Regions from separate parts of the Homo sapiens genome. Here region 1 is linked to region 2. The links come from fine-mapping of genetic effects on gene expression. A gene starts in region 2. The other region holds a variant in brackets. All regions are shown on one strand. Distances are from middle to middle. Region 1 has its middle 53 kb from the start of CTPS1. Region 2 holds the start of CITED4 (Cbp/p300 interacting transactivator with Glu/Asp rich carboxy-terminal domain 4).

Evidence for each region. PIP is the estimated chance that this variant, and not a neighbour inherited with it, causes the effect.
Region 1: its variant is fine-mapped to the expression of CITED4 in subcutaneous fat (TwinsUK, PIP 0.95).

Annotation. Positions count from the first base shown.
Region 1 is chr1:40,920,703-40,933,305 of GRCh38, forward strand. No RefSeq gene overlaps it. Among named protein-coding and RNA genes, the nearest start is that of CTPS1, 53 kb to the right of the region's middle. The variant A/G (reference allele first, on the strand shown) is at 5,860.
Region 2 is chr1:40,855,490-40,868,092 of GRCh38, forward strand. CITED4 (Cbp/p300 interacting transactivator with Glu/Asp rich carboxy-terminal domain 4) reads right to left here and starts at 6,874. Exons shown (of 1, transcript NM_133467.3): 1 at 5,565-6,874. The coding sequence starts at 6,638. The coding sequence ends at 6,084. It overlaps LOC124904157 (a long non-coding RNA gene), which reads left to right and starts at 6,895. Exons shown (of 3, transcript XR_007066025.1): 1 at 6,895-7,621; 2 at 8,679-8,906; 3 at 11,259-11,442. It overlaps LOC105378676 (a long non-coding RNA gene), which reads right to left and starts at 2,005. Exons shown (of 3, transcript XR_947239.2): 1 at 1,573-2,005. RefSeq lists silencers at 6,661-6,740, 6,901-7,100 and enhancers at 7,201-7,260, 9,684-10,233, 10,234-10,783.

The sequences.
Region 1 (12,603 bases), 65 kb after region 2:
TGAGGTGGGTGGATTGCTTGAGCCCAGGAGTTTGAGGCCAGCCTGGGCAACATGGTGAAACCTGGTCTCTACAGTTTTGTGCGTGTATATGTATACACACACACACACACACATATATACACACATATATACACACATGTATATACATAATGTGTATTTATATGTATAAATTAGCCAGGCGTGGTGGCGCATGCTTGTAGTCCCACCTATTTGGGAAGCTGAGGTGAGAGAATCCCTTGAGCTTGGGAGGTTGAGGCTGCAGTGAGCCAAGATTGTGCCACTGCACTCCAGCCTGGGTGACAGAATGAGACTCTTTCTAAAAAAAAAAAAAAAAAAAAAAACCTTCCATGGGGTGTGACGGAAAGCGACTGTCCTGTCTGTGTGCCATGCCCATTCCTCCCACTGGACCTCTTGTCTGAATGGCCTCCCCAAGCTTCTCCAGCATCCTTGTTATACTTAGATTTCAGGACCCAAGGCCAGTCATGCTATCATTCTGGAGCCTTCTTTGTTTACTCCAGACCACATTCATCTCTTCTTCCAAATTCCTAAGATGGTACCTTGGGTCTTGGGGCTTGGCTAGACTTCAAATTCAAATTCTCAAACATGTACTCTGCCCCCATGTCATGCCTATCACTGTGCTGGTGCAACACGTAGGTAACTCATCCAAGCCTCGCCACCTTCCCATGAGGTTCAAATTATGCCCAGTTTTTACAGATGGGTAAACTGAGGCTTGGAGCAGTTAAGCAACTTATCTGTGGGCTCACATATAAGGAGTGGTGGAGGAAGGATTTGAATGCAGCATCTGATCCCCCAAGTCCAGCTTCGTTCTCACTAGCCCTCAGCCACTTCTGCCTTTACATAATTTGATCATGGTCTTCAGGGGTCCCCAGACCTGCCCCTAATCTCCTTCCGCATCTTCACTTCTGCACGACCCACAGCACCCAGGGATCACCGGAGTAGGCACCCTGCACTTCTCTATGCCCCCTGCCAGTGGGATGTGACACTTGCAGAGTGAATAAGCACCCCTAGGGTGACAGCCAAGGCTGCCCACACCTCTCTCCTCTCCTGCAGTGGGTTCCTACAGGGAGCCAGCAGCCATCCAGTGGAACAAGGGGCCAACACTTCAGAAGAAACTGCCATATGCTGGAGTTGTGTTATTGTCAATATGACTCTTTCTTCCAGGCCTGTGCATGATGGCATGGGAATAGTCATAACAACCTTTACTACAGCAACTCTTCATTGGCACTAGCCCATCTTAAGCTTCTCCTTTTTGGGTTAAATTCAGGATGTCAATAATAATAACAACAATAGTTTTTTTGTTGTTGTTGTTTGTTTGTTTGTTTTGAGACAGAACTCACTCTGTCACCCAGGCTGGATTGCTGTGAAGTGATCTCTGCTCACTGCAGCCTCAATCTCCCAGGCTCAAGTGATCCTCCCAACTTAGCCTCCCGAGTAGCTGGCACTACAGGTGTGCACCACCACACCCAGCTAATTTTTGTATTTTTTGCTGAGATGGGGTTTCGCCATGTTGCCCAGGCTGATCTCAAACTCCTGGGCTCAAACCCTCTGCCTGCTTGGGCCTCCCAGAGTGCTGGGATTACTTGCATGTACCGCTGTGCCTGGACAACAATAGCTATTTTATCAAAAATATGCAAAATGAAAGGAAGCTGCTGGGCACTTTATGTACCCTATCTTATTTAATCCTTATAGAAACCCTAGGATGCAGGTATGATTATTATGCCCATTTTACAGATATAGAAACTGAGTCTCAGGCAGGCAAAGCAACTTGCCTGAGGCCACAGAGCTGATAAATGCTGAAACTCAAATCCCAGCTCCACCCTGAGGCTGGTGGACCTCCAAGTCCTTGATCTCAACCTCTGCACCCAGTTCTACAACCAGATAGGTGTTCAGGAGGTCCAACACAGGCAGTGGATAGGTGAGGAAGGCTTAGTGACTGGGGCTCCTCAGAGAGGTGCATAAAACCAGGGAAACTCAAAGCACTGCAGGGACACTGGTCTGAGTTTCAGGAACCTGGGTCCAGATCCTGGCTTTGCCTCCTCCCAGCCGTGTGTCCTTGCTCATGTTGCCTACCCTCTCTGCACCTTTATTTCCTCAGCTGTGAAATGGGTTGATAATAGATTCGCCCTCCAAGCCTGGTGTAAGAAGGAAGTATGATAATGTCTGTGAACATGCTTTGAGGCCCTGAAGCACCACGCTTAGTGCATTATCATCCATTCCCTGGACTTCTAGAATGAGTGAACCGTGGGAGAATCAGGAACAGCATCGGGGGAAGGAGGAGAGGAAAGTGTCGGATCAGGCTTTTCTGGGTAGACAGAGGTAGGTAAATGTCTTGCTCAGCCAACCTCACATGACAAGAGGAACCTGCTAACTAGGTCACCTTGCAGGAGGAAAGAGCTATTCCGGGATCCGCCTGCAGTTGCAGAGCTGGAGCTGGGGAGCTGAGCTGGCTATTTCAGGGGCGGCACAGAAAGCCCGTCCGACCGCTCTCCCTTGGATCTCGGCCCTGCCTTGGGCCTAGGGCCTTGGGCCTTGAGAGGCAGGGAGATTCTAGTGGACGCTGTGCTGGCACTCTCTGCATGGCTGCCCTCAGGCAGGGGGAACCATCAGGCCATCTGGAACCATCACAACACGATCTTCCCCATCCCCTGGGAACCACCATCCCAGGCAGCTGTGGGTGAGGGTGGCAAGATGCTAGACTTGCATTTCTCAGCCTGACTGGGAGTCTCAGCTCCTGAATGCAATGACCCTGCAACGCTGGGCAGTTTGCTCCAGCATTCTGGGCCTGGGTTTCCTCACTTGTAACATGGGGGTAATGGTGCTTATGTTCCAGGACTGTCTGAGGATTAAATGAGATAATGATATAAAGCACCAAGCACAGGGTCTGGCCCAGAGGAAGCACTTGATAAATGGGGATTGTTCCTAACTGAGCTTCTGTGGCATTCTATGCTGCAATAGTGATGGCGGGGAGGGGACACCTGAAAGAAGGCTGCACCTTGTGGGATGGGAATGGGGGCGGAAGGAGAGATTATGCTGGAGAAATTGAGCGTTTGAGACTGCTTAAAGAGAAGAATCCTTTTGGGAGGAGCCTGGGACTGTGAGGTCAGTGTGACCCAGGTGAGAATTGCTCAGCTCCCTGCAGGTTGGGCAGGTATGTCTTTACCTTCTGAGCTTCAGGTGCCTTGTCTGCAAAATGAGGCTGAAAATACTTAGCTCCTATAATCTGGCAAGAAATAAGTGAATTAACATAAAGCCTTTATTTAGCATAGTGCTTGGCACCTAGTAGGTGTTCAAGAAATGCCAGCTATTATTGTGTTATCTCATTTAGTCCTCATAGCTACCCTATAAAGAAAGTATTACTATCTTCATTTTATAGATGAGGAAATGGAGGCACAGAGAGGTTAAGTAATTTATGCAGGGTCTCATAGTGAAGAAGCTGTTTTACTAAGATTTGAATTTAGTCTGACCTTGGAATTCGCACTTTTAACTACCACTTCCCATGCTTGTGTGTGTGTGTGTGAGAGAGAGAGAGAGAGAGAAAGTATGTATAGCTATATGCGGATATGTGAAACAAAAAGATGAAAAGTGCCTAGCATGATATGGTTACATAGTCAGTGATCAGTAACCAGCAGCTGTTGTTACTGTAATTGTTATTCCCGTCATGACCATTGTTCACAATTTAATTGGCAATTATGAAACAGGAGTGGCCGGTGAAGGTAGAAAGAGTTCTAAAATATTAGAAAAGGCAACAATCCCATTCTCAAAGGACTTGTCAAAAGGAAAAGGCAAAAGAATAGTCATAAAGTCATAAGTAACTTTCTTGTAGCATTCTCTATAATTAGGAAAAATGGGGAAAATGTATATACCGAAGAATAACGGGGTGGTTACGTAAATTATGGTTGATCAGTGGCTCACACCTGTAATCCCAGCACTTTGGGAGGCTGAGGCGGGCGGATCACATGAGGTCAGGAGTTCAAGACCAGCTTGGCCAACATGGCGAAACCCCATCTCTACTAAAAATGCAAAACTTAGCCGGGTGTGGTGGTGCATGCCTGTAATCCCAGCTACTCAGGAGGCTGAGGCAGGAGAATCGCTTGAACCCAGGAGGTGGAGGTTGCAGTGAACTGAGGTCGCGCCACTGCATTCCAGCCTAGGCAATAGAGTGAGACTCCATCTCAAAAAAAAAAAAAAAGAAAGAAAAGAAAATGACACATTCATTTAGAATGATGATACAAGGACTTGACATGGAAAATGTTTATTACGTAATTACTATTACTGGGGAAATGCTGGATATAAAATTCTATTTCTGCTCTAATTATACCTCTGTTAAAATATCGACTGTATGTAGAGAGGAGCTAGAAAGAATATGCAGTGTCAATGTGATAAATGCTGGCATTGAGTATTTCTCTCTTTGTCATTGATTTAATAACTCAACCATCATTTATTAAGCACGTACTAAGGTCGGTCAGCATGTTAGGCATGGCTATTAGTATGGATTATATTAGGCTGCAGGAAGACTTAACGAGAAAAGAGGTTTTAGTGCCTCTCAGAACATTCAGCGGGGAAGCAGTTCAAAGCCGATGTGGCAGCTTCAGGGTGTCAGGGACCATGGCTCGCTCTCTGGGGGGGCTCTGGCATTTCTAGGGAGTTACCTTTTTCCACATGGTCCTATGGGGTACACCACCATGTCTATGTTCCAGCCAGCAGGGTAAGGAGGAGAAGCGGAGGGCATGCTTCTTCCAGGAAAGGTCTCACTGAAGTTGCTCACACCACCTCCCTCCTTATGCATTGGCCAGAACCTTGTTGCTTGGACACCCCTAGCTGCAAGCTAGACTAAGACACGTCAGGACTTTGGGAGGCCATTAGCCTTGCTAAAAACAGGTCCCAATTACTGCAGAAGAAGGGAGAACAGCAACAGGGGCACCCCTGCAGCATAACAGATTAAGTAAGTCAAAGCCACAATCCTGGAAGAACCCAGTGCCCAGTGAAAGTGACATACACTGTCAAGAAATTGGCTGGGTGCAGTGGCTCATACCTGTAATCTCAGAGCTTTGGGAAGTTGAGGCAGGAGGATCACTTGAGCCCAGGAGTTCAAGCCTGGGCAACAGGAAAAAAAATTTTTTTAATTAGCTGGGGATGGTGGTGTGTGCTGTAATCCCAGCTACTCCAGAGGCTAAGGGACGAGAATGGCCTGAGCTGGGGAGATAGAGGGTGAAGTGAGCTATGATTGCACCACTGCATTCCAGCTGGGGCAAATAATTATAAGACAATCTGTGAAGTGCTGTGATTGAGCTATAGGGTTACCAGGGACAGAATGACCAACACTGGCTGGGGGGCCATGAACAGCTTCATCTCCCATGAAGATTTTGCCTGGAACGATCCCATCCCACTCCGTTTGTACCATGTGGTTCTGTGCTCCCACCAAGACTTAACTGATCTCAGCAGTGGGTGAGGGGCACTCCTGACCAAGCTGGAATCATCCAAGGCCTGCTGGGAGTTTGAATGGAGTGGAGCGAAGCAGCATCTGGGGTCATGGTAGACTTGTCCCCTGAAGGCAGCAGGCTTCTACTGCAGTGATCCCTGGAGACATGCTAGACCTGTTCTTCAGACGATCCTTGATTCAACTCCTCTTCCTTCAGTCTGTGTGGTGCCTCCATAGCTCCCAAGATATCCATCCCACCACTCCCTCCCAGGTTTGTTTGTTTGTTTGTTTGTTTTTGCCTTAAGGTAGTTACTTGAGACCAAAATAAGCTGAACTAACTCAGAGGTCAGGGTAAGTTAACAAGCAGTTTCACTGAGATTCAATTCTAAGTGGATATCCCCCCCCCGGGTGCAATGTGC[A/G]ATAAGAAGCCATGAGGTTTTAAGGAGGGCAGAGGGGAAGGTTTTCCAGGCAGGGAATCAGCAGCGTATATATCTGGAAGCCTTTTATTTCTGTCAGTGGTTTATTGATTATGCAATAAAAGGACCGCTGGGAAGAGAAAACTCATAACAAAGGCCCTAGTGGGCCCTGAAGCCACCAGCCCACGACTATCTCTGGGTGAAGAGCTGGAGTTTCGTCCTCCGAGACAGCTGTGGTTTCTGCTTTGCTCTGTGATCCTAGGCCCTCCAGGAGATCTCTCTGGAACTGATTCTTCAATTTCTAAGAGAACAACAAGAGTATTTAAGGGGATTAAAAACCACAGCAATATCTATGAACACTTTAAAACCCCACTCTGTGCAGGCCTGGTTTAACCCTGGCGATGTAATCATCAATCATTCCTATCCTTGACCTTCCCCTGCACTCACTCAATGAGCAGCTCCCAAAAGTTGGGTCTCCACTGTGCACCTGGGGTCCACACACTTCTCCCCACCAGCTTGGCCCACCACTTCATCGAGCCTCTGGATGACTGCTTCGTCTCCTAACTGGTCTTCCTTTTGTTATTTTTGTCCCCTTCCAATCTGTTCCTACGATACAGCCAATTTGATCTTTTAAAAAATCAGATCAAGCTGGGTGCGGTGGCTCACTCCCAAAGTGCTCCCAGCACTTTGGGAGATGGAGGCAGGGTTGTTTGAGCCCAGGAGTTCAAGACTGGCCTAGGTAACTTAGGGAGACCCCATCTCTACAAAATATTTAAAAATTAGCCAGGCATGGTGGCATGTGCCTGTAGTCCCAGCTACTCAGAAGGCTGAGGTGGGAGGACTGCTTGAGGCCGGGTGGTTGAGGCTTCAGTGAGCCATGATTGCATCACTGCACTCCAGCCTGGGCAATAGAGTAAGATGCTGTCTCAAAAAAAAAAAAAAAAAAAATCAGATTAAGTGGAGGAAGCCAGTCTGAAAAGGCTACATACTGTGTTATTCCAAATCTATGATATTTCGGAAAAGGCAAAAACTATGGAGACAGTATAACAATCAGTGGTTGTGGCCAGGTGCGGTGGCTCATACCTGTAATCCTAGCACTTTTGGAGGCTGAGGCAGGCAGATCACCTGAGGTCAGGAGTTCGAGACCAGCCTGGCCAACATAGTGAAACCTCATCTCTACCAAAAATACAAAAATTAGCCAAGCATGGTGGCACGTGTCTGTAATCCTAGCTACTTGAGAGGCTGAGGCACGACAATCGCTTGGACCCGGGAAGCAGAGGTTGCAGTGAGCTGAGATCGCACCACTGCACTTCAGCCTGGGCCACAGAGGAAGACTCAACTCAAAAAAAAAAAAAAAAAAAAAAAAAGTAGTTGCCAAGGCCTTGGGAGGAGGGAGGAATCAGTGGAAAACAGGGGGTTTTTAGGACAGTGTGACTAATCTGTATGCTACTATAATAGTAGACACAGGTCATACATTATTCAAAACTCATGTTCAATACAGAGCAAATTCTAATGTAAACTGTGGACTTTAGTTAATAATAATGTATTGGGTCATCAACTGTAACAAATGTACCCCTCTAATGGAGGATGCTAATACTAAGGGAAATTGTGATATGTGTGCATGTATGCACAGTAGAGGGTGAGAGGGAACTCTGGACTTTCCGCTCAATTTTTCTATAAACCTGAAACTACTCTAAAAATAAAGTCTATTAATTTTTTAAAAATCAGATTATGTCATTTTCCTGTTTAAAACCTTCCAACGGCTTCCTATTGCACTTTGAACAACATAATAAAACTCCTTCCTCTGGCTCATGAAGTCCCCATGATGTGGCCCCTGCCTTGCTGTCTCCCTTCCCCAACTAACACTCCACAATGGGCTTCTTTCTGTTTCTCAAATATGCCCAGTTTTTTCTCACCCCAGGGTCTTTGCACTTGCTGTTCCCTCTATCTCGATGCTCTTCCCTCTGATTTTCAGATGGCTGGTTCCCTGTTATCACTGAGGTCCTAGCTAAACATCCCTTCCTTGGAGGGGCCATCCTGACCACCCAATAAGAGCAGCCACCCAGTCACTCAATGCCATGCAACCCTGGATTCTACTGGAAGTAGTTGCCATGGGAACAGGGGTCTTTTCTACCTTCTTCCTTGCTGTATCCCCAGCTCCTAGAACAGAGTCTGACCTGCAAAGGTCCTCCAGAGATACTGGTTGAGTGAATGTGAGTGAATGAATGAAAGAATCTTCTGAAACTCATTCAGGGCCAGGCCTATGCTGGATCCCAGATAAGGCATGGTTTGTGACCTCTGGGATCTCACAATTTAATACACAGAAGTTTACATTGGACCTCCCGAACAAAGTAGCAGAGTGGTTAAGAGCACAGGCCATGGAGCCAGACTTTGTGGGTTCAAATCCTGGCTCTGGTTGGGCTCAGTGGCTCACGGCTATAATCCCAGCTCTTTGGGAGGCTGAGTTGGGAGGATTGCTTGAGCCTAGGAGTTTGAGACCAGCCTGGGCAACATAGTGAGACCCCCATCTCTACAAAAAATTAAAAAATTAGCCAGACATGGTGGCATGCGCCTGTGGTCCCAGCTACTCAGGAGGCTGAAATGGGAGGATCACTTGAGCCCAGGAAGTCGAGGCTGCAGTGAGCCAAGATGGCACCACTGCACTCCAGCCTGGGTGACAGAGCAAGACCCTGTCTCAAAACAACAACAACAACAAAAGACAACTAGCTCTGGTCTGTAACAGCTGTGTGTGTAAAACACCCAGGAAAGTTTCTAGAGCATATTACATGATCAAGAAATGTGAGTCATCATTGATGTCATGCAGGCCATATAAAGATACATGAGGCTGCACAACTCCAACACCAGAGTTCAGGGAATTTGGGAAATCCCTTTATTTATTCATTTGTTTCTGGATCACTCATTGCAAGCCTTTGGAAATGAGCATGAGAAGGGGCAGGTTATTTTAGGGAAAATTAAATTTTTTAAATGGAGAAACTAATATTGACTGTACTAAGAGGCTTGATATTCAAGATGTCATTTTATCCTCCCAACAAATATTTGGGGTAAATACTGTAGGGCTATTTCACAGATGAGAAAACTGAGACTTAGGGAGGTGAGATGATTTGCCCCATGTGACCCAGCTAGGAGGTAGCAGAACCAAGAATGACCCCAGGGCACAGTGAGGTCATAACATGCCCCCTTCTCTCTCACCATCCCTGCTCCAGCAGGCATGGGCTCCAGTCCCGAGCCCGGGCTTACATGGGTGGCAGTGACACTGGGTGGTCAGGAGCTGGGATGTTAGTGTAGACGGACCTGATTTCAAGTCTTACCCAGGGCAAGACTTTGGGCAAGGTTCCATACTGGAAAACTGGGTAGCTGGGCACAATGGCTCATACCTGTAATTCCAGCTACTTGGGAGGCTGGAGAGCAGGATGGCTTGAGGCCAGGAGTTTGAGACGCGCCTGGACAAGATAGCGAGGCCCCTCGTCTCTAAAATAAACAAACATATCAGAAAAATGGGGTTCATAACAATATCTGCTTCATAAGATGGACCTCTGTGAGCACAGCTCTCAGGACAGCACTTGGCAAAGGGTGGGGAGTTGGTAAATACTCATTGAACAGAGGCACCATGGAGTTGTTGTGAGAGGTGAGATGAGATGAGGCTGATCTGTCAGATACATGACAACCAGTTCCCAAAATTTCTGAAAGAAGGACCAGAGCCAGGATTCCACAACATGGCACCTGTGTGAACAGGAGTTCTGAAGAGGGCATTCAGAGCCGGGAGGAACAAAAGGGATCATGTTGTTGACACATGAGGTAATCACCTGGCAGGTTGGTGGCAGAGCTGGCTGGAACCATGGCCATCCGTCAGTTCTCAGGCAGTGCATTGCAGGGGAGAGAACCAAAGAAAGTGTTCTTCAAGGCCAAGGTCCCTTCTGCCAGCCCATGGGGCCTCCGATTCTGTTCTCATGGGGAGTTGGGGTGAGGATGCCTGTGTCATCCATGGGTGAATTCTCCAGCCTCTCTGGGGAGCTCTACATGCCCGGCTCCCTCAGGCCCCAGCTAGTTCCAGGGTTTAGGTCCTGGAGAGGGCCACAGTGCTCAGGGTCTCAGAAGCCAGCTCTTCTTCCCACACCCAGAGCTCCTTCCCCAGCCGGGCCCACACTTTTGCTCCCTGGCTGACCTAGATTCAGGAGCTGGCTCATTTCCACAAGTAGACAGATGCTGAGGCACAGTGAATTAACACACATATTTCAATAAGTGGTGGGCAGGTGGCCCCACAGCCTCTCAGAGCCTCAGTTTTCTCAAATTTTTTTTTGTTTTTTTTGAGACGGAGTCTCGGTCTGTTGCTGAGGCTGGAGTGTAGTGACGCAATCTCAGCTCACTGCAGCTTCCACCTCCCAGGTTCACTTCTCCGGCCTCAGCCTCCTGAGTAGCTGGGATTACAGGTCCCCACCACCACACCCGGCTAATTTTTGTAATTTTAGTAGAGGTGGGGTTTCACCATGTTGGCCAGGCTGGTCTCGAACTCCTGAGCTCCTGTGATCTGCCCACCTCGGCCTCCCAAAGTGTTGGGATTACAGGCATGAGCCATCACACCTGGCCAGTTTTCTCAACTTTTAAAGTAGGGACAATAGCATTTACCCTTGCAGAGTTGTGAAGATTAAATGCACTTATATACTTGAAGTGCTAGCACAGTGGCTGAACAGAGTAAGTCAACAATACACATGTATTATGCATTCTTGCATTGCTATAAAGAAGTACCCGAGACCGGGTAATTTACAAAGAAAAGAGGTTTAATTGGCTCACAGTTCTGTAAGTTGTACAGTAAGCATGATGCTGGCATTTGCTCGGCTTCTGGGGAGGCCTCAGGAAACTTACAATTATGGCGGAAGGCAAAGGGGGAGCAGGCATGTCACATGACCGAAGCAGGAGGAAGAGGTCAGGGGGAGATGCCACACACTTTAAAATGACCAGACCTCGGGAGAATTCACTCACTATTGAGAGGACAGCACCAAGGGAATGGTGCTAAACCATTCATGAGAAACCTACCCCCATGATCTAATCACCTCCCACCAGGCTCCACTTCCAAAACTGGGGATTACATTGAATGTGAGATTTGGGTGGGGACACAGATCCAAACTATATCAACACGTTAATCTCTTTCCTTCCTCACATCTATCCCCACACTGACTTTGGAGGCAGCTTGCTAGCTCTCAGCCGGGCTTACGTCACCACCCTGCTTAAAAAATCTTTTATTCTTCCAGTGCTCTCTAAGCTAATGTGAATATTCCCTGGCTTGGCATCCCAGACCCTCCTCACCCGCCCCAAGCTGTTTGACCCGCCAGCTTTTTTGCCACCCTTTTCTAACTAATGTGCTGTCAAGTTAATAAGCCTTTCTTGGAAATGTCACTCATATACCCCTGCCTTGTAGACCCAATGCACATTAACATATTAAGGGTTCTGAGGAACATTGCAGGAAAGACATTTGTTTAACCTTGTTCAGTGCAGAATTTCCCAAGTGAGTTTGACTGTAGAATCCCATTAATATCCCACAGGACATGCGTTTGTTTCCTGAACACCCTTTGCAATTTCCTGCCTGCATGCTCTGCACAGGTGGGTCTTTCTTTCCACAAAGCCCTTCCTCCCCAACGCCTGTTTACTCATCACAGGAGGCCCAGACTGGCCGACCCCTCCTCCAGTTGGTAGAGCTGACTCCCTCCCCTGGGCTCCCTCAGTCTGTGTCCTCTGCCCCACCCTTGCTCTTCCAGTCCTCCCAGTGAGCATTCCTGCAGGGCTGCCAGCCCTCACTCTCGCCTCCCCAGCATCTGGCCTCCCTTGCTCCCCTGCCCCCACCCGAGATCCATTTGAGTCCTATCTATCTGTTCCCAGGGGACCACCAAAAAACATTTCCTCTAAGAACCTTTTCTGTATTCCTTAGTCAGGTAAAAAATAAACAATAAATAAAAATCTGTTTTCCTCGTGATTTTAGTTAAAGGTCGCTAAGGGTAAGGTCCATATTTTTGGTTTCTCCACAGTGCTTTGCACTTAGTAAGTTCTCAGTAAATGCATGCTTAGACATACATTCCACCATATTTATTGAACACCTATCATGTGTCCTGTGCTGGATGTTGGGGGCATAATGGGAAACACAACAAACCTGGAAGGCAATAAGGGAAGTAGGAAAAGCTAGGATTCTGGGAGACACGGCTTGCTTCTGAATCCTGGTTCCACTACTTACCAGCTATGCATCCCTGAACAAGTTACTTGACCTCTTTGTGCTTCAGTCTCCTCACTCATGAAACAGGGAAAGAAAAAGTATTTGTCTTGAAGGGTTACTGTGAGGATTCAGTAAGATGATACATAAAAAGTGCTTAGAACAGACCCAAACACATAGGAAGAGCTATAGATGTGTTCAGCGATTGTTATTGTAATAGACAGCTTTGCCTCACAGAGTTTAGTTTAATAGGAAAGACAGACGTTGAATGACCAATTATACTAGTAACTATTTATTTATTTATTTATTTATTCGAGACAAGGTCTGGCTTTGTAGCCCAGGCTGGAGTGCAATGGTGCAATCATAGCTCGCTGCAGCTTCAATCTCCTGGGCTCAAGCCATTCTCCTGCCTCAGCCTCCCAAGTATCTGTGACTACAGGTTTGAGCCATCATGCCTGGCTAAGTTTTTCAAAATTTGGGTAGTGACTGAGTCTTACTGTGTTGCTCAGGCTGGTCTCGAACTCCTGGCT
Region 2 (12,603 bases):
TTAAAAAATTATTTTGAAAATTTGTTTTGCCAACCTTAGAGTTAACTACACCTCATAAATAAAAAATGAAATTTTAAGTTTAAAATGTATTAAAATTTTCCTGGACTCAAGTGATCCTCCTGCCTCGGCCTCCCAAAGTGCTGGTATTCTAGGTGTGAGCCACCATGCCTGGCCCAGCACTTCCTAATGCCCTCTGAGCCACACAGGGGGCGATGGTGAGCCTTACAGTCTGGTGGAGAAAGACCCCTCAGCGACTCTGACACACAAGGTAATAGGCCTTTGGATGTGGAAAAGGCCCTATGGAGGGCATTTCAGGCTGAGGAAATGGCACAGGCAAAGGAACAGAGGCTTGGCGGCACGAGGAACATCGTGCATGAGGAGCCTGGGGTGGCTGGAGTTGAGGGTGGGAAGGCACTTGGAGGCTGGGTGGGGCAGGGCTCTGTCCTTCTCGTCCCTGTGGTCATATTTCCCAGCCACAGCTCCACCTGAGCAGCTCACGGGTCAGGCACTTAACATCACCTTGGTTCATTCTCACAAGAAGCTTATCGTGTCTCTATTTGACAGACGAGGGGACTGCACTCAGAGTAGCTTCCTTTATTTCTTCTATCCATCAGGGCACACTTTGGGCCCTGGGCCTTTACTCATGCCCAGTCCCCCAACCTGTGTGTCCTCCCCAAGCTGACCCACATCCCACTCTTTTATCAGCACCAGCCCTCAGGGCCGTCCAGACGCTGAGCTGCTCAGCAGTGCCTCCTTAGAGCCCTCAACATGAGACTCTACGTTGCATGCTCCAGGCTGGCCAGATCTCAAGCCCCAAAGTATATGCAGGTGTCCTCTTCCCAGACCAGCTACAGGATAAGGGCCATGGTTGTTCAGCCACAAACCCACTTTGGCCAGGCAGCACTGCACTGCTTGCAGTGTGCTCTCAGAAACCCAGCCTCATGTGAATCTTTGCACACACATTCTTCAGATGTTGGAATTATTCTCTCCATTGGATGGAAGAAGGAATCAAAGCCTAAGGAGGCCCAGTAACTTCCTCTGCAATTCACAGCCTCAGAGTGGCAGATCAGCTCTGGGACTCTGCTCTTATCCCACCCAGGCTCAGGTCCTTGGCCAGATCCAGCCTGGGAAGGGGACAGGCCCTGGATATGGTGGGGTGGACATGCTCACCTCACCTCTTACTGAGGTGTGACTTGGAGTAATTCTCTGAGTGCCCCAGTTTTCTGACCTCTGGAATGGGGATAAACTACCTAGCAGTGCTATTTACAGGGTTGGGCGGTGATTAAAGAGAGACTGGAAAAGAAAGAGTGCCACTGGGCACTCCCCGTCAGTTCCCACCATGCCTGCACGCAGCAGCCACTCAGTAAGCACTTATTTGGTCTTATAGTTGGCACTAATCTTGTCCCAGCACTTCTAACAACAGGGTGGCATGAAGAGTTAGGCCACGATGGATTAAGGAATTCAAGAGGATTACTTAGTAATCAGCTAAACCACTTAAGCTGCCTGGGAAAAGGCTAGGATCAGACTGATCATTAATTTATTCGATAAATGACTGTTGAACACTTATCTGACCTGGAGTGATGACGATGATGATGACAATGACGATGATGATAATGATGATGACAATGACGATGATGATGACAATGACAATTATGATAGTGATGGCAGCGCTCAGTTATTGAGAATCTACCATGTGTGGGGTATTTTGTATAGAGTCTCATCACATCAAACCTGTAAGGTTGATACATTTACATTTTGTTGTTTTTGTTCTGTAATGGGGAAGGTGCTGGTCAGGTCTGAGACTAAGGTGAGGCAAAAGAGATACCCAGGGCATAAATTTAAAGAGTCCCTTGCTGTTGGGAACCAGAGTCCCCACCCCAGTGCTTGTGGTGAACACTGTGATGTGCCGCCCAGAGCCCCCTTCTATGAAATCATTGCCCTAGTCTGGGCACGGTGGTGCATCCTGTAATCCCAGCACGTTGGGAGGCCAAGGCAGGCAGATCACTTGAGGCCAGAAGTTGGAGACCAGACTGGACAACATGGTGAAACCCCATCTCTACTAAAAATACAAAAGTTAGCTGGGTCCGGTGGCACATACCTGTAACCCCAGCTATGCAGGAGGCTGAGGCAAGAGAATCACTTGAACCCGGAAGGCAGAGGTTGCAGTAAGCAGAGATCGCGCCACTGCACTCCAGCCTGGGCGACAGAGTGAGACTCTGTCTCAAAAAAAAAAAAAAAAAAAAGAACAAAAGAAAAGAGAAGAAAAGGAATCATTGCTCTAGCCCCCAGGAGTGCTGCTGTTGGTAGACAGCCGTACCCTGGCAGCTCCTCCAGGGATGAGCTTAGCTGGGGACAGCTGCCTTGCCCACAGTCACACCACTTCTCTGGGTGGCTCACATCCAGTGACTGATGGAGGCAGGAGTATAAAGGATTAAAATGGTCCAACTCAGGCCAACTCTGAAGGGCCCTTCTAGCTCCAGAGCTCCCAGCGGGGCTGGCTGAGGCTCCTGCTGGGCCTGCTTTGTAGCTTCTTAGCTCCTTCTGTCCCCTCCCTTCTGCAGCTGCTGATCCTGAAGGCACTCCCTAATACACCTCTTGCTAGCTGAATGTCATCTCAGAGTCTGCTTCCCAGGGAACCCCACCTGTAACAGTGTTGCTTGTTGGAGTAACCCCTTTCTAGCTGGTTAAAACACAGCCTTTCTAATATTCTAATACAAAGGCATCTCCAAAAAGTGCTGTTATCAGGGATAACAGCACTTACTACAAACCACACTGCTCTCAATACTTTACCTGCACTAACTTGTTTAATCTCCACAGCAGTTCTGCAGGGTGGTACTATTAGCATTCCCATTGTAGAGATGAGTTCAAGGGAAATTATACTTTTCTTGAAGGAAAAAAAACCACACACACAAATGACAGCTTGTTGATAAAATCCAGTCAACCAAAAGATAATTCAAAATAAAGAACATCAGCCTGGAAACTTTCATATGAATAGGAAAACAAAACAAAACAACAACAACAAAAGGATGGGAAAATGACTTGTGTCATGACTCAGTTCTCAACCCTGAGGAAGCCTGATTTCTGACCCCCAAGATCCAGCCTAGGTATAAGAGAGAAATCCACAGCACCCTTTGGCAACAGGTTGCTTTAGGAGGCAGCCCTGGGGGAGACATGAGCGACACCCTGTTGGCACCACGGAAGCTCGTGTGATTATCTTAGGAGAGCCAAGATGCGGGAGGTGTGGTGGCTTCCTTGAGGTCAGGCAGCTAGTAAGAGTTGCTTCTGAACTGGACCCTGAGGCTGTCAGACGACAAGCCCATTGCTCTCCTCACTGTCTCTACACGTACTCTCTCTTCCCCTGGTAGGGGATGGTAGGGTCAGAAGCCTCCAAACAGTATCAGGGATTTGGGGATCCAGGCTGTGGGATGCCCCAGCCTCATCTTCTCCCCTGTCCATCTGTCTGCTGTCCAACTTGTCAGCAGTCCCTTTTGGAGGGATGCAGGAGGGAAGAGCTCAGCAGCTGGACTCTCTCCTCCGCTTCCCCCTTAACTCTGGAAAGAGGCAGGTGTTGGGGTTTTCGTTGTAATCCCTTCCATATGGAGAGCACTTCAGAGTTTGCCAACTGCTTATCAACCCATCTCTGAATTTGTTCCTTACTAATTGTGAGGGTTATTGCTTTGTAATGTAGCAGGGCAGGGATATTAGCCCCATTTTACTGGTGTGGAAACTGAGGGGAGAGAGAAGAGAATCAGGGAAGTGTTCAGCTCAGGGTCAAACCCTCCTGTACTAATTCAGCCCTGTGGTTTCTGTCTCTGGCCTGGGGTTCTGGGCAAAGCAGCGGGGCGGTGGGGTGGGCAAATGCCAGCCCCTCTGAGCCCAGAGCTCAGGCCAGTCCCTTCCCAGAAGGCTCTCTTCCTTTCTCTCTTCATCCTGTCCCAGAAATCCCATGATCTTAGGGAGACCTTTATTCATTTGCCAAACACCTCCTGTCACCAGCCACATTCCATCCTGGTAGCTTCAGAGCACAGTAGGTCCTGGGAGAACTCACAGGTTGGTGGAGGGTCACATCCACAAAAAAGCCTGGCTTGAGAGTCAAGCCCAGCTGCTGGGGACAGAAGGTCTCAGCCTGGTGTTCCCCTCCAGTGTCCCTGGAATCCATGCTCTCCTAGAGAATGCCCCACCACCGCAGCGTCTCTGACCCGGCCTCCTCCCTGACTTCAATCTCTTTCCCAGCTTTTCTCCCACATCTCAGAAGCACCTAGGGATTTTTCCAGAGTGAACTGCAGAGGGTGGCCAGGAACTCACGCTGGTGCTCAGGACTCTGAGGCCAAATCCTGCCAGGCCTGGGCACACTCCACAACCCTCATGTGTAGAATGAGGACTGTGCTTGCCTCACGAAGTTGTCGTAAAGCCATTCGACCTTTCTTGTACCTTCTAGACACCCCACACCTTCCCCAAACATTCATCGTACTTGTGTGCCTTCCTGCCTTGAAACAGGCTCCTCTCCTAAAAACATATTCATCACTCAAGGCTCTGTTCATCACGTCAAATGTCACCGCTTCCCTGAAGCCTGAACTGACCCCAACCTCAACTATTAATAGCTGAAACTGCTCCCTTCTCTGGGTGTGCCCGCTTGGCCGGTCTATTGTCCTGGCTGTACAATCCCCCCCAGAACTATTTTCTTTTTTCTTGAGGAGTCTCGCTCTGTTGCCAGGCTGGAGTGCAGTGGCATGATCTCGGCTCACTGCAACTTCTGCCTCCTGGGTTCAAGCGATTCTCCTGCCTCAGCCTCCCGAGTAGCTGGGACTATAGGCGCGCACCACCATGCCCAGCTAATTTTTATATTTTTAGTAGAGACGGGGTTTCACCATATTAGCCAGGATGGTCTCGATCTGTTGACCTCGTGATCTGCCCGTCTCGGCCTCCCAAAGTGCTGCTTAGCACTGTTTTCTAGAACTCATCACAGTCTTCCTTGCAGCAAGATTAGTTTGTTTTCAGGCCTATCACCCACCTCCTCCCACCTGGGCTGTGATTCCATGAGAACATGCACCAGGTTGACACAGGGCCTGGAATAAAATCAGCACCAATTTGTAGAATAATAATTGCCGTCACTTACTGAGAACTGCCCAGGTATTTGGCACTGTGCTAAAGGCAGCGTAACTACCTGAGGAGACGGGGACCATCTCCCTCTGGGAAACCGCCTCAAAAATCAGAACGGATGGTGTCTTGGGCAAAGGAGAGAGTCAGGGTCCAAAGCTAGGCTGTCTGAACTCGGTGCCACCCAGCTCCTCTCTGGCAGAGCACCAAGCTCCCCCCACCCTACCCTAGGAGCTGGGAAGCCCAGTGGGTTACCCCACCACCCAGTGGCAGCCTCTGCCCTCCAGGTTGTGACATAACAATTGCACAACCCACGAGATATTTTTGAAAGAAACTGTCGGTTTCCTCTCCTGGGCACTGCTGGGGACTGTGGCCCCCATGCCATCCAGTGTCTTCAGCAACCTTGGGACTTTGGAAGCTAAATATAGTCAGGGCTCGGGGTGATAAGGAAATGAAAACGGCAAGACTGTAAAGTGACCCAGTTTTATTTTGGTTTTGGAGGCCAGACAGGGCATTGCTCCACGGGTTCGGGCTGTACAACCTTCCCCTCCTTGAGGTGGGAGGCCCAGCAACCACAGGGCCCAGGCAGCGGGGTGGGAGGCTCAGGAGATGGTGGCTCTGGGGACCCGATCCCGAGGAGAGAGGGGGCAGCAGGCAGAGGCCTGCAATGGCTCAGATTGGGGGAAGAGGGCGGCGAGGGGGAGAGGACACGATCCAAGAACCAGAGTCCGAAAGCTGAAGCTGGTCCGGTCTCTTTCACTTTACGGCCGAGGCTGGGGTCAGAGAAGTGAAGCCAAACTGTCCTCCCGCAGGAGGCAAGGCCTGGAGGGACGCCAGGGTCCCAGTCCGGTGCCGGGCCCTGCGCACACAGCCGCCGCCTCCACCCTCGCGGAGGGCGCGCGCGGGGCCCAGTCGCTGGGTGCAGGGTCCGGCGGGCAGTCGGGCCCTTTCTCCTCTCCGGCACGCCGGGCGGGCGCCGGCCGCCCTCAGCAGCTCACGGAGCCGGCGGGCGGCGCGGACCCCAAGTCCGAGAAGCAGTCGAACTCGCTCTGGCCCAGGAAGAGCTCGGGCAGCTCGCGCACGCGGTGCAGCCCGAGCTCCAGCTCCAGCGACGTCAGCGCCTCCTCGTCGATGAGTTCGGCGTCCATGCCGCCCAGGGCGTGCGCGGGCGGCGGCGGGGCTGCGGCGCTTGGCGCCGGCTGCGGGCCCGGGGGGCCTCCCGGAGCGTTGGGGGGCGCGGCCGCGCGGCCGGGGTACGGCGTCGCCACAGGCTGCAGGTGCGCGATGCCCGCGGCCGGCGGAGGCACGGCCGGAAAGGGCTGGAAGGAGGACGGCGGCCCGAAGGCCCCGTACGCCAGGGCCCCGGGTTGGCGGGGCGGCGGCGGCCCCAGCGGAGCCCCCCGCGGCCTCAGCCCACTGTCCAGGCCCGGGCCCGCGTACGGCGGCAGAGTCCGGAGCGCATGAGGGCCATGGGCGGCCGCGGCGGACGGCGGCCTCTGCACCAGGCGGTAGCCCTCGGCGAGCATCAGGTGGTCGGCCATGGCGGCAGGCCGGCTGCCTGCGGGGACAGCGCGCGGTGGTCAGCGCCGGCTCCCCCGGCCCGGGCCAGCGGCTGCTCTGCGGCGGGAGACCCGGGCACCGTGCGGTCCCTGCAGCTCGGCCGGGCGGAGCAAAACCAAACCCGACTGGTGCCCCGGCCCAGCCCACTACTGCGCACCTTGCGGCCGCAGCCTGGGGTCACAAAGGCCCGCAACCTGTAGTGCTCCGAAACCTCCGCGTCGCGTAGCTGGGCTCGGCGTATTCTTATACCCAGAGGCGGGGCTTCCCCGCCCTCGGACGCTCATTGGCTGGGCGAGACGCTTCTGGGCGGGCCGCGCACGCCTGCATCTAGGTCTTGGCCCCGCCCCTCCCACTGGAACCCCGCCCCTTGGGACTCCGGCCACGCCCCAGGCTCTGAGCACCGCCCTGGGGCGGGGTATTTGGCACTTTCGGAGGGATTCGGTCTGGCCCTCAGGGCTTCGGAATCGGACTTGGCTGGGGTAGAGCTTGAACTGACCAGAAGGTGGGGTGGGAGGGCCAGAGTTTTAGGCCCCCCAAGAGCTGCAGGATGTCAGGCCTACGCAACCTTTTAACTTTCCAGGTAGAGACCGAGGCTCAGTGGCGGAAGAGGCTTCCTGGAAATACACAGCAAAGCCTTGATCAAAGTGAGACTGCACAGCTACACAGGGCGCATGCACCTTAGCGGTGCAGGGTCCCCGCAGGAGGTCAGCTGTCCATTCCCATAACCCCCAGGAGAGCCTGTTGCTCCCCCTCTAGTTCCCACTGCACCTTGTCTGTTGAAGCATGTACTTAGTTGTTATTAATTTATGGGCACGTCTCCTGAAGGACTTGTTCATCTTCTTCTTCTCAGCACTTGGCCCAGAGCCTGGCCCAGAGCAGGCTTTTAGTAAAAGCTGAGTGAATGAACTAATGATGGAATGAATTGCAACTCTCAGCTGAGCCTCAGTTTCTTCATCTGTAAAAGGTAAAGAACAGCAGCACTGACCCTTTGTGAGGGGTAAGTGAGGGCATGTGTGCACAGTGCCTAGCACAGTGCCTGGTATGTGGTAGATGCTCAAAAGTGTCCCTTAGATGAAAGAAAGGCTATTTAAGTTCTTTTTTTTTTTTTTTTTGAGACGGAGTCTCGCTCTTTCGCCCAGGCTGGACTGCAGTGGCGCTGTCTTGGCTCACTGCAAGCTCCGCCTCCCGGGTTCACGCCATTCTCCTGCCTCAGTCTCCCGAGTAGCTGGGACTACAGGCGCCCGCTACCACGCCCGGCTAATTTTTTTTGTATTTTTAGTAGAGACGGGGTTTCACCGTGTTAGCCAGGATGGTCTCGATCTGCTGACCTCGTGATCCGCCCGCCTCGGCCTCCCAAAGTGCTGGAATTACAGGCGTGAGCCACCGCGCCCGGCCAAGGCTATTTAAGTTCTGTCCCAAAGGGCCTTCTCTTGATAACAGCAATAATAACTTGGACTTTTAAAGTGCTTTACATTCTACAAGTATTTTGTTGGGGGCAGGGCATGGATTATCAGCCCCATTTCAGTGATAAGGAGAAGCACACAAAGAGAAAGTGGCTGTCCTGAGGTCACAGGCAGCCAGAGTTAGCGTGTGAATGCCATGTGTTTTCCAAGTCCTTAGGGCAACTGGAGTCTTTCCTGTGGCCAGGAGACAGCCTCCCAGAACCTTACCCTCCACGCATTTGACACTCTCTCTCCCTTCTCTGACCTTCCCCCGACCTGTGGCATCCTTGGGACTTCCTGGAACTTGGGTTTATCCAGTTGATGTAGAGGGGAGAGCCCTAGAGTGAGAATTCAGGGGCCCAAGGTCTTTTCTTCCCTCTTTCTTCTTATTTTTTTAAATAGAGAAGGGAGCGGGGGGGAGGGGCGGCGTGGGGGAGTGAGGAGGGCCTCAGGCTTATCTCGAATCCCTGGCCTCAAGTGACCCTCTCACCTCAGGCTTCCAAAGTGCTAGGATTACAGGCATGAGCCACTGCGCCCAGCCAGAGGCCCAAGTTCTAATCATATCTCTGCCACCCACAGGTGTGTGACCTCCACCACCAACCAGCTGTGACTGTTGAGTGTTGAGCGGGGAGTATTACTTGATTCCCCAGGGCCTCAGCTTTCTGCTCTGTGAAAGGGAGACGGTGATCTTGCCTGGTCAGCCTGAGAGCTTGTGGGTAGTGATAAATGACCATGGGTGTGGTCACATTTTTGCAAAGTGTAAAAAGCTACACCCTGGAATTTATTCTCCTGAATCTTTCTCTACAGGTAAGGCTTCTCACAGAAATTCTTAAACCTGGCCATGCCTCACACTTATCTGGAGATGTGGGGGGTAAGGGGTGGGTGAGTGGGGGCTTTGATAAAGACGGAAAATCTGCCCAATTTGGGAGATGAAAGTGAGAGGATTGCTTGAGCCCAGGAGCTCAAGACCAGCCTGGGAAACATAGTGAGACCGTGTCTCTACAAAAAGTTAAATAATTAGTTGGGCATAGTGGCATGTATCTGTAGTCTGAGCTACCCAGGAGGCTCAGGTGGGAGGATTAGCTGAGCCCTGGAGGTGGAGGCTGCAGTGAGCCATGATGGCACCACTGCACTCCAGCCTGGGCGACAGAGATCTTGTCTCAAAAAAATCAACAAGCAGGCCAGGTGAGTGGCTCACGCTTGTAATCCCAGCACTTTGGGAGGCCGAGGTAAGTAGATCCCTTGAGCTCAGGAGTTTGAGACCCCTGTTTCTGAAAAAATAAAAAATTAACTTGGCATGGTGGTGTGCACTTGTAGTCCTTGCTACTTGGGAGGTTGAGGTGGGAGGATCACTTGAACCTGGGAAGTTGAGGCTACAGTGAGCTATGATCACACCACTGCACTCCAGCCCGGGTGATGTAGGGAGACCCTCTCTCAAAAAACAAAAAAAAACAAACAAAACAAACAAAAAATTATTCTGCCATCATTGGTCTTAGGTCACCAGCATTTGGGAGCCATTGCACCACCAGATGATTTTCCATTTAAAAAAAAATGTGTGTGTAACTAATGTTTAAGAAGTTCTTTAGGCCGGGCATGGTGGCTCACACCTGTAATCCCAGCACTTTGGGAGGCCAAGGTAGGCAGATCACCTGATATAGGAGTTTGAGACCAGCCTGGCCAACATGGTGAAACCCTGTCTCGACTAAAAATACAAAAATTAGCTGGGTGTGGTAGCACACGCCTGTAATCTCAGCTACTCAAGAGGCTGAGGCAGGAGAATTGCTTGAACCCAGGAGGCGGAGGTTGCAGTGAGCCTAGATAGCGCCACTGCACTCCAGCCCCAGCGACAGAGTGAGACTCCATCTCAAAAAAAAAAAAAAAAAAAGAGAAAAGACAAAAAAAAAAAAGGAAAAATAGAGTAGGAAGGAGGTTGGGGTGCAGGGGAGGAGGGGAGCAAGTTGTAGTATTAAGTGGGGTATCTGGGGCAAAAGCGGGCTGGGCGTGGTGGCTTACGCCTGTAATCCCAGCACTTTGGGAGGCTGAGGTGGGTAGGTCACTTGAGGTCAGGAATTTGATATCAGCCTGGCCAACATGGTGAAACCCCGTCTCTACAAAAAGTACAAAAATTAGCTGGGTGTGGTGGCACGCACCTGTAGTCCCAGCTACTCAGGAGGCTGAGGCAGGAGAATCGCCAGAACCCAGGAGGCAGAGGTTGCAGTGAGCCGAGATGGTGCCACTGCACTCCAGCCTGGGCAACAAAGCAAGACTCTATCTTTAAAAGAAGAAAAAAAAAAAAAGCCGTATCAGCAGAGAGAACGCTGGAGCAGCACTTCTAAAACTGTAGCAACAAGTCCTGAAGTGTCAGCCTTACCAGGGACCCCATTAGAAATGCACATTCTAGGACCGTACACCAGACTCAAATCAGTTTCTGAATCAGAAACTGGGCTGGAATTCAGCATCTGTGTTTTAATAAGCCCTGCGGGTGATTCTGATTAAGGACCTCTGAGTTAGGGGGAAGCCTTAGGCAAGGGTGAGCCGCAGCCCTAAGGGAGTGTGGACAGAGTGCAGTGGGGCTAGGAGGGTAGCAGGGAGGCCAACTGCATTGAGGCCTTGCAAGGACTTTGGCAGAGGAGTGACATGATCTGGCCTTTGTTCTGAAAGTGTTGCTATGGTCAGACCTCATTTGTTTCTAGAGTTTCCATAAACTGCTTCCTCCAGGCTCCTTGGATGCCCCAAGCACATTTGCTTCTCAGGACTCTTGCTGTGCCCTCTGCCTGGAATGCCCTTCCTTCAGACAGCCACAAGACCTTCCCTGACCACCCTCTATCCATTCTGTCCCCTTACTCTGTTTTGCTTCTGTCCTTAGCACCCACCACCATACAGTCATGCCCTGCATTACATTTGGGTCAAGACAATGGTCCTATAAGATTACAATGGAGCTGACAAATTCCTATCACCTAGTGACCTTGTAGCCACTGTAACGTCATAGCGCAACACATTCCTCACGTGTTTGTGGTGATGCTGGTGTAAACAAACCTACTGCGCCCCCAGTCATATAAAAGTATAGCACATACAGTTATGTACAGTACACTTGATAATGATGATAAACAACTATGTTACTGGTTTACGTACTTATGATATGTTTTATTGTTATTTTAGAGTGGACTCCTTCTACTTAAAAAAAAAAGTTAACTGTAAAGCAGCCTCAGGCAGGTCCTTCAGGAGGTATTGCAGAAGGCGGTTATCACGTGAGATGACAGCTGCATGTTACTGCCTCTGAAACCTTCCAGTGCGCCAAGGTGTGGAGGTGGAAGACAGTGATATTGATGATCCTGACCCCAGGCTAATGTGTGTGTTTGTGTCTTAGTTTTTAACAAAAACAGTAAAAAAAAAAATATTGAAAATAGAGAAAAGCTTATAGGATAAGGATATAAAGAACAAAAACGGGCTGTGTGTGGCGGCTCACGCCTGTAATCCCAACACTTTGAGACGCTGAGGCAGGAGGATCACTTGAGCCCAGGTGTTTGAAACTAGCCTGGGCAACATAGCAAGATCCTTGTATCTACCAATAATAAAAAAAATTAGTCAGGCATGATGGCATGCACCTGTAGTCCCAGCTACTTGGGAGGCTGAGGTGGGAGGATCACCTGAGCCTAGGAGGTTGAAGCTGCAGTGAGCCAGGATTGTGCCATGGCACTCCAGCCTAGGTGGCAGAGTGAGACCCTGTCATAAAAAAAAAAAAAAGAGGGCCAGTCACGGTGGCTCATGCCTGTAGTGCCAGCACTTTGGGAGGCCCAGGAGGGCGGATCACCTGAGGTGAGGAGTTCGAGACCAGCCCGGCGAACATGGCGAAACCCCGTCTCTACTAAAAATACAAAAATTAGCCAGGCATGTTGGTGCGTGTCTATAATCCCAGCTACTTGGGAGGCTGAGACAGGAGAATCACTTGAACCCAGGAGGCAGAGGTTGCAGTGAGCCAAGATCGCACCACTGCACTGTAGCCTGGGCAACAGAGCAAGACTCTGTCCCAAACAAATAAATAAAGTGAAAGAAGGAAAGGCTGTACAATGTGTTTGTGTTTTAAGCTAAGTGCTATTACAAAAGAGTTTAAAAGTTTTAAAAAGTACATAACGTTACAGTAAGCTAAGGTTAATTTATTATTAAAGAAATAAATCTTTGTTATAAATTTAGTGTAGCTTATAAAGTCTACAGTAGTGTGCAATAATGTCCTAGGCCTTCACATTCACTCACCACTCACTCACTTACCCAGAGCAACCTCCAGTCCTGCAAGCTCCACTTGTGGTAAGTGCCCTATATAGGTGTACCAGTTTTTTAAAATCTTTTATACTGTTTCTTTTTTTTTCTTTTTTCTTTTTTTTTTTTTTTTTTGAGTCACAGTCTCTCTCTGTTGCCCAGGCTGGAGTGTAGTGGCACAATCTTGGCTCACTGCAACCTCCGCCTCCTGGGTCCAAGCAATTCTCCTGCCTCAGCCTATGGAGTAGCT